Homo sapiens: one gene and its partner. The protein of the gene in region 1 purifies or fractionates together with the protein of each later gene. This does not show direct contact. Each region holds a gene or a part of one and is shown on either strand. Other genes may lie near its edges.

Region 1 (4,482 bases):
CAACAACAAAAAAAGAAAAATACTAACCTATTAACCTTATCAAGAAGAGTGTTACTTTTCATTCTGAAAGCTGGAGTAACAACAATTGTAGATAATAAAAAAAATACTAAGGCTCGAATACCTATTTTGTGCTAGGTGCCTAATTCAAACAGGTATTATGGCCGGGCACAGTGGCTCACACCTTTCCCAATCCCAGCACTTTGGGAGGCCGAGACGGGCGGATCACCTGAGCTCAGGAGTTCAAGACTAGCCTGGCCAACATGGCAAAAACTCATCTCTACTAAAAATACAAAAATTAGCCAGACATGATGGTGTGTGCCTGTAGCCCCAGCTACTTGGGAGGCTGAGGCAGGAGAATCACTTGAACCCAGGAGATGGAGGTGGCAGTGAGCCGAGACTGTACCACTGCACTCCAGCCTAGGTGACGGAGTGAGACTCCATCTCTAAATAAGAAAACTAAGGCTTAGGGATCATTAGACTAACTTCCTAAGGTCATACTGCTAGTAGGTGATGGAACCAGAATCCAAACTCATTGACTCCTCTAAGTCCATGTTCATGACACTACACTCGGAAGAGACTAGGAATGGTGGTGATGGCAAGATGCCCACTGGGGGCCAGTGGGAAGAGCAAGTAACGTCAGCATTTTGGCATTACCAAAGGGACTGGCAGGGTCACTGTGCATCTCAAGGTTGGGCGGTGAACTTCTTATAGGCCCAGCTCAGAGCCTCTTGCCTAACAGCAGACACAGGGAAGGGATTATGATGTGACAAAAGTTGGCTTTTAAACTGAGGAATCCTCAGTATACTGAAATACTTGTGGCTTCATGAAGACCCTGTCTCCTGTGCAGAAGGTCACATGGATCTTCTGGCATGTACTAGGCATGTCATTTTAAGTCGAGTAGGGGGAGAGTGAGATGAAAACCTAAAAGGATCATACCACCTAAAATACGGACATCTTTTTTTTTTTTTTTTTTTGAGACGGAGTCTCGCTGTGTTGCCCAGGTGCAATCTTGGCTCACTGCAACCTCTGACTTCCGGGTTCACACCATTCTCCTGCCTCAGCCTCCCAAGTAGCTGGGACTACAGGCGCCCACCACCAGGCCTGGCTAATTTTTTAATATTTTTTTTAGTAGAGACGGGTTTCACCGTGTTAGCCAGGATGGTCTCGATCTCCTGACCTCATGATCCACCTGCCTCAGCCTCCCAAAGTGCTGGGATTACCAGGCGTGAGCCACCGCGCCCGGCCACAATATGGACATCTTAAAAACTGATGGTAATGGCCAGACTCTATGCAGACTATGAAAAGACTAGCTTATTGCATTATCACTCTGGGCAGAAAGACTTGCATAGAATCACAAAATCAAAATATTTATTTTGTTCTTTTTCATATGACACTGTTAAAACATTCCTACTACAGCAATACTGCTCTCCAGGAGCTTACAATCTAAAACAGTCAACATTAATTGTAGACCCAGTAATTAAGGCATTATATCAAATGCAGACTTTGTATCTTTTTTTTTTTTTTGAGACGGAGTTTTGCTCTTGTCGCCCAGGCTGGAGTGCAATGGCGCCATCTTGGCTCACTGCAACCTCCGCCTCCTGGGTTCAAGCGATTCTCCTGCCTCAGCCTCCCGAGTAGCTGGGATTACAGGCATGCACCACCACGCCCAGCTAATTTTTGTATTTTTAGTAGAGATGGGGTTTCACCACATTGGCCAGGCTGGTCTCAAACTCCTGACCTCAGGTGATCTGCACCCCCGCTTGGCCTCCCAAAGTGTGTGAGCCACTGTGCCCAGCCCAGAGTTTCTATCTTTTGATGTATCTTTTGAAGGAGCAGCTGGAGAGGGCAGGATCAAAATTAAATCACATGAAAGTGTACTCCCCTCCGCCTGCTCCTTATAAGGAACCCCTTATGACTAGAACCCAAGACCAGTACCCACAGCCTGAAAGGGAATTTCAGACAACCCTACCATAGAAGTAGTGAAGAAACCTTAATTTCTAATCTCCTAGTGGATACAGTGAGGATTCCATTTGTGGGCAATGGGGATGCTGGGAGTTCCTCCCTCACAGACTAGAGACGGCACCTAAGATTCTGTAACTCTGGGAAGGGTACCAGCCTTATAGAAATTCCAGTGGGTCAACTGCCTCTTGAAGCATGCTTAAAGTCTCTTAACAGGTTTATAAATGCCAATTTCTGGTTGGTATTATATCCACAGCATAGCACTGTCTACTGCATCAGGAGGGCTATGGAGACTTAATATACTAGACATGCGATTAAAAAAACTGAAAGAAAAGGGAAAGGACAACAGAGTAAGGGGGCCAAAGAAATGGTGATGCAGTCTTCTAATAGATGTGAATGGGGAAGGAAGAAAAGAGAAGTTTAGATCCAAAATGAACAAAGAAGTCAAGCATTAAATTCCAAATGAACAGGTATACAGAAATGAAAAGTTAATGAAATCATTGTATTATCACAATCCAAGAGCTCAAGATGGAATTTAAGCTTTTTCTCCTTCACTAGCTTCATCCTTTGGCAGCCAGTCTAAGAATCTCTGAAATTCAGGTTTTTCAGGAGATTATCTCTATCCTGAATACCTGAAGACCTAATCTAAACTGTTATTTCTTTCTGTGAATTTCAAAGTCATAGCATTTTGTCTTAACTGGCCTTGAATTTTCTTTTTTTCTGAGACAGGGTCTTGCTTTGTCACCCGGGCTGAGTGCAGTGGCGCAATCATGGCTTACTGCAGCCTCGACCTCCAGGGCTAAAGCAATCCTCCTGCCTCAGCCTCCCAAATAGCCAGGACTATAGGTATGCACCACCATGCCTGGCTAATTTTTGATTTTTTATAGAGATAGGATCTCACTATGTTGTCCAGGCTGGTCTCGAACTTCTGGACACAAGCCATCCTCCCACCTTGGCCTCCCAAAGTGTTGGGATTACAGGCATGAGCCATTGGGTCTAGCTGGCCTTACTGATTAGGTTTTGTTGCTGGGAGGGTATTCTATAGCAGCTCATGCTGAGATTTCTAGAGAGCACCAATGTCACTACTAACTATTGATTCCTATTTATTTCTCATGGTTTTATGACTCCTTGGCTTTAGACAACAGGCTGTATTATACCTTTGTGTTGGACTTCGTCAGTACCTGTCATTCACCCTGCTCATGTTAAGTATCATCATTACAAAGTGATGGAATGAGAGAAAAGCACAAAGCTCTAAATGTTGGTTCTTGGATTTTAACCTCAATCCAGTAGGCTCATAACCCTCTCTTGGTTCAAAGCCATACAAGTCCACATTCCTTGCTCTCCAATATTTAACTGGCACCCACAGAGAAAGTACAAACTTCAAAACCACAACACAGGCCAACAGGATAGCTGTGTTTTGTTTCCTCTGCCCTGAGGCACAACTGGATCTAGCACCAAGGAGGGCAGGATTTAACAGACCAGCACAAGACAAATCAATTTAAAGAGGTAGTTTGAACCAGGAATAAGACTGCAGTGTAGACTACAACTGAACAGAATACAAATCCAATGTGGTTCTTCACTGAGAACAGGGGTTTTGGCCACTTGTAATGTAATTAAACCCCCACGAATAACAAAGATGATTATATGGAGGATGAGGATCTGCTTGGTATAAGCACAGTTGTTGGAGCCTGAGGAAAACCTGGCCATCAACAAACCACAGCCTGAGTCTTTCCAAAGAGAAAGCTGGGCTTTTGCCCTTCTGGCCCATGACTGGTAGATTTACACTGCAGATCAAAGGTCTCTCTCAACAATCAAACTACTTCCAAGAAACCATAGACCTTTAAAAATAAGGACTAGTGATTTCATACAGGCTAGTAAAAATACTTTGGCTATAGCCCTTCACACATGTGTGCTTGGGTACACATACACACAGGTGGAGCTCAATAAATGTGGAATGATTAGGTATTGATCAGCAGTATTTACTACGTGAGTTAAGTCCAGACACACCATCTACCAATCAGCAATTCAAATTTCCATGCCCAATACCAGGCAGCCAACCCACCAGGCAATATTTCCTTAGCTTAAAGCACAGATTCTCAAAAGTGTGGTCCCTTGTAACATCAGCAGGAACTCAGAAGTGCCACTTTGGGGGCTTTTGGGTTGAGGCCCAGCAATTAGTGTTTTAACAAGCCCTACAGGTGATTCTGATGCACGCTAAAGCTTGAAAATCACAGTTTTAGAGGCAGACATGCGAAAACATTATAATGGAAAAATTAATTCAAACTCTCTTGCTTCACTTCAGCTGGGACAAACCAAGGTATCAAGACAAAGTAAACTGTGAATGGTTTTATTTAAAAATATCTATTTCTATTTTCTCAAATTGATTGTCATTTTTTGATTGGCAAGTTCATGCTAATCAAAGTGTTAAGTGGGAATGCAAGTCGATGCATCAGCCATCCAAGAATACACACTCTGCAAGTTCTAAGCCTGTATTTAGTCTCAAACCACCGCTCTGCACACTAC
Region 2 (5,257 bases), on another chromosome or scaffold:
ACGTGCTAGACGAATGACTAAGTTCTAAGCTGATGGTTCTGAGTTATTTGCTTGTTATTGACTGTAACAGATAAACCCTGTATGATTTGTTTTCTGAAAGTAAATGAGTCCTCACCCCAGGAGTCCGCTGGGGGAACCAGTGCCTCAGTCATTTCTCCCAGCCAGGCTATGTTAGCTGGAGGGCCAGGCAGAAACCGTCTCCAGGTGGCACCTCAGCGTCCTCATGCTGTGCTTCTCCTCATGTCCAAACCTTTTAGAGAAGGACATGTTGAATGTGTCATTGTAAAAGTAGGTCTCATTCTGAAACCTCTAATTAATATGCCAAAAAATATTTTGTTAAGCCTTTGAAATGGAATTTTTTCGTATGTGAAAAGAATGTAAATACATCTATATGTGCCAAGCATACGCACTGCACCTGCAGCTCCATATTTAAAAGGTGATGATATTCTTGTCTTTCAGATGCTTTGTTTGCAGGCAAAGCAAGCAGCAGCTGGAGGAGGAGCAGAAGAAAGCACTGTATGGTTTGGAAGCTGCGGGTAATTCCTAAAACACAGGCTCAGTGTTGTCACTGTGTGTGCTGGAGTGCGGGTTTCTGTCCTCTCTCAGGGCACTGCCTCTTCTCCCTGCCCACCTGTGCTTTTCCTTTTTCCTGTCTGGCACCAGGCATCCATTTCTTCTTAGCCCCAGGCAGCGTCAGGTCACTGTTACTTGCCGTGTGTGGCTGTGTGGAGCAGTGGGTTTTGTGAAAGGCCCCGTTACCCTTTCTGAAACGCTGTTGTGGTGCTGAGTCTGGACTCCTGTCCCAGGTGCTCTAGAATGTGGGGGCAGCAGATGTCCCATTGAGGGCTTGCTTGGTGACCACCTCAGGCCCTGGCAACCACACAGTCTCTGTCCAGCAGAGGCAGCCTAGGCAGTGTACAGTGAGTGGGTATGGCCATCTGCCGATGAAACTTTATTTATGGACACTGAAATTTAAGTTTCATAGAATTTCCACATGTCACAAAATATTATTATTTTGATTTTTTTCTCTTTCTCTTCTTTTTTTTTTTTTTTTTTTTGGATGGAGTTTCACTCTTGTCGCCCAGGCTAGAGTGCAGGGGCACAATATCAGCTCACTGCAACCTCCGCCTCCCGAGTTCAAGCGATTCTCCTCCCTCAGCCTCCCTAGTAGCTGGGACTACAGGCATGTGCCACCATGCCCAGCTAATCTTTGTATTTTTAGTAAAGATGGGGTTTCACCATGTTGGCCAGGCTGGTCTCAAACTCCTGACCTCAGGTGATCTGACTGCCTCAGCCTCCTAAAGTGCTGGGACCACAGGTCTGAGCCACCATGCCCAGTCAATAATATTTATTTATTTATTGGGACAGAGTCTTGTTCCATCACCCAGGCTGGATTGCAGTGGCGCGATCTCGGCTCACTGCAACCTCCACCTTCTGGGTTCAAGCGATTCTCCTTCCTTAGCCTCCTGAGTAGCTGGGATTACAGGCGCCTGCCGCCATACCTGGCTAATTTTTTTTTTTTTTTTTTTTTTTTTTAAGACAGAGTTTTACTCTTGTTGCCCAGTCTGGAGTGCAATGGCGCAATCTCAGCTCACTGCAACCTCTGCCTTCCGGGTTCAAGCAGTTCTCCTGCCTCAGCTTCCCCAGCAGCTGGGATTACAGGCATGCACCGCCACGCCTGGCTAATTTTTGTATTTTTAGTAGAGATGGTTTTCACCATGTTGGCCAGGCTGGTCTCGAACTCCTGACCTCAGGTGATCTGCCCGCCTCGGCCTCCCAAAGTGCTGGGATTACAGGCGTGAGCCACCGCGCCAGACCTTTTTCAAGGATTTAAAAACGTGAAAAGCATTCTTAGCTCTCAGGCCACACACAGACGGGCGGCGGGCCGGATCTGACACACAGCCTTGGTTTGCTGACCCTTGTTCTAAATTGTCCAAAAGTCACCAAGTGAGGAGAGGGACAACAGTCCTGCCTTCTGGGAGGTGATCCTTTGGGTACCACTTCCTGCGGGGAGCGGACAGTTCCGTGGTGGATGTTTTTGGTGTTGAGCTGAAGAGTCGATTGCATGAAGTGTCTGCTAAATGCATGAGCAGGTGAGAGCCCGAATGGCCTCCCACCGTCCTGGTGCAGGGCGCTGCCCGGCGCCATTGTAACTGTGACATCTCCGTGGTTCTTTGTGCTTCAGAGGACGTGGAGGAGTGGCAAGTCGTCTGTGGGAAGTTTCTGGCCATCAATGCCACAAACATGTCCTGTGCTTGTCGCCGGAGCCCCAGGGGCCTCTCCCCGGCTGCCCACTTGGGAGACGGGTCTTCTGACCTCATCCTCATCCGGAAATGCTCCAGGTTCAATTTTCTGAGATTTCTCATCAGGCACACCAACCAGCAGGACCAGGTAAGTGGGGTGCTCTTGCATGGAGCCTCCACTGGCGAGTAATTTATGTTCCAGCAGTCCCTGGTTTATGTGTTGTAGGAATTCATTATTTAATTCAAGGGAAGGAAGGGCAAACTTTTTTTTTTTTAATTTCACAAACTTTAAACTCCTGGTTACAACTACTCCTTGTAAAATATCATTTAAAACGATAAATTTTTGAGGCCAGATGCGGTGGCTCATGCCTGTAATCCCAGCACTTTGGGAGGCTGAGGCAGGCGGATCACCCGAGGTCAGGAGTTTGAGACCAGCCTGGGCAACATGGTGAAACCTCATCTCTACTAAAAATACAAAAAAGCCAGGCGTGGTGGCGTGCGCCTGTAATCCCAGCTACTCGGGAGGCTGAAGCATGAGAATCGCTTGAACCCAGGAGGTGGAGGCTACAGTGAGCTGAGATCACGCAACTGCACTCCAGCCTGGGTGACAGAGTGAGACTCCATCTCAAATATATGTGTGTGTGTGTGTGTGTGTGTGTGTGTATGTATGTATACATGTGTGTGTATGTGTATATATACATATATGTGTATATACATACACATACATACATATACACACATACATACATATACACACACATACATACATACATATACACACACATGTATTTGAGCACAGAAACTAAGAGGTATGAATCTTTATAATACAACTTCTTACCCGTTGTTTCTCTTCCTATTTAAAAACAGAACAAAGCGACACAGTAAAGATGTAAGTGGCCCTTGCAGGCCACTGAAAATAGACTCTTTAGGCTCCCAGAAATGGGTTCTGTTCGGACCCTTCTACCACATCTTTCTGTAGCCTATGCAGAGGAAGACCCGAGTCTAGTCATGTTGGGGGAAGCGGAACTTTTGGTCACAGTCTCCAAATTTAGTCACATTTCTTTTTTTACTTAAGTTCTATTTAAGATCTAGTCTAATGCTATTTTTATGTGGCTTTTTAAGTAGTGCTTGTTAAAAAGAGAATACAAAATTCTAATAATCACTGCTAATTATTTATCAGAATTCTGTAAAAAGCGTTCGTCATTGTAGATAAGCTGTGGTTTCTAAAAGCATTAGAAGTCATTTTGACAAGTGCCGCGGAAGGTGGGCACCGGGGAAGGTAGGCGCCGGGGAAGGTGGGCGCCGGGAAAGGTGGGTGCCAGGTTTCCCTTCATCTCTGAGCTGTCAGTTCAGCTGGAAAGGGAACTCCAGGGGCCTGCACAAGCAGTCGCATCCTCCGAGAAGGGCCGTGTGTGCACCCAGGCCTGACAGCGCTCGCTGTCAGGCCTGGGGTGTTCTGCTGCCCCACCCAGACGATGACGTTTAGAGCTGAATGGTCCCTCTCACTGTTTCTTGGTAGTTTGACTTCACTTTTGTTGAAGTTTATCGCGTCAAGAAATTCCAGTTTACGTCGAAGCACATGGAGGATGAGGACAGCGACCTCAAGGAGGGGGGGAAGAAGCGCTTTGGGCACATTTGCAGCAGCCACCCCTCCTGCTGCTGCACCGTCTCCAACAGCTCCTGGAACTGCGACGGGGAGGTCCTGCACAGCCCTGCCATCGAGGTCAGGTGCGTGCAGGGGTCCTCCAGCCACCAGCGCCATCCCCTTGAGCCCTGAGGTGTCTGTCACAAGCTGCCCCACCCAGGGTGGGGGGTTCCCTGGGGCTTTATAAACACAAAACGTAAGAATGTTTTATAAATGCACTTTTCTCTCCCTATGTCAAATATCGAATGAGATGCCGTTACCCACATTCTGGAAAGATGCCAGGGTGCCGAGTCCTCAGCATTTTGTTTTGCAGATAATTTTCATGGGTGTTTGAAGCTCCTCCATTTCATTCTTTTCCTCTTCCACACCCTGTGCTCCAGGCTGGCATTGGGCTCTTTGCCCTGGCATTCTCTCTCTCTTCTCCTAAATAATTCAAAAGGTGGGAGGCTGAGGCGGGCAGATCACTTGAGATCAGGAGTTCAAGACCAGCCTCGCCAACATGGTGAAACCCCGTCTCTACTAAAAATACAAAAAAAATTAGTCGGGTGTGATGGTGCATGCCTGTAATCCCAGCTACCCCGGAGGCTGAGGCAGGAGAGTCGCTTGAACCCAGGAGGCAGAAGTTGCAGTGAGCCGAGACCATGCCACTGCACTCCAGCCTTGGTGACAGAGCGAGACTCCATCTCAAAAAAATTTCAAAAGGCAAACAAAGGAAACCGCCTTTACAGGCAGTCCTTTGTCCACTGAATCCACCAGGGAACCGCTGGCCTCAAGGGCCACAGTCAATCACCAAGTGCAGGTGCTCCGTGCAGGGAGGGGCAGGAGGCAGCAGGGCTGGGAAGGGCACCCCGAGGATGGGAAGGAGAGGAGGAGCCCCAGAGGGACGCCCCGTGCTGGAGGCCACGCAGCCTAGGGGACGCGGGGAGGCAGGTGTGGCCACACACGGATGTTCGGTCTCCCTGGGGCAGGTGCCACACCCCTCCTCTGGCTGGCTGGGCGGAGGGTGGGAAGTGGTGTCCTCCCCACACCCACTGGGGCCCATTGTATTTGGAAGTCTGTGATGTATCACATAACCAGATGGAATCTGAGTGCAAAGAAAATTGTTTCTCCATGGAAAGACCCAGTAACAAGCAAGTTGATTTTTTCAAAAGGCCACTGAATTAGGTGTGGGCGTGCAAATTACATGAGACTGGGGAACGGTAGAGCTCAGGTGGATTCTGAACTCTTGGCAGATGTTGGTAAGAGCTCGGTCTACTTCAAGGAAGCCCAGCTTGACGCTCGTTAACAGAGTGTGGCTGGCGTGAGAGCGATAGCAGGCTGGTCAGCAGGCCCACGCCTGTCTGCAACGAAAGCTGGGTGTCAGATGGCC

The links. Proteins that work in one complex are often made in the same cells at the same time.
Region 2: the proteins of SLC31A1 (region 1) and CERK purify together in Homo sapiens (affinity purification with mass spectrometry; 2 studies listed by BioGRID and IntAct, with this or other methods). This does not show direct contact.

The regions. Positions count from the first base shown.
Region 1 is NC_000009.12:113,261,357-113,265,838, reverse strand, and holds the end of SLC31A1 (high affinity copper uptake protein 1), read right to left. Parts: 3' UTR 1,347-4,482; downstream 1-1,346.
Region 2 is NC_000022.11:46,688,706-46,693,962, reverse strand, and holds part of CERK (ceramide kinase), read left to right. Parts: intron 1-459; coding exon 460-536; intron 537-2,185; coding exon 2,186-2,391; intron 2,392-3,762; coding exon 3,763-3,971; intron 3,972-5,257. UniProt on the Homo sapiens protein: Catalyzes specifically the phosphorylation of ceramide to form ceramide 1-phosphate.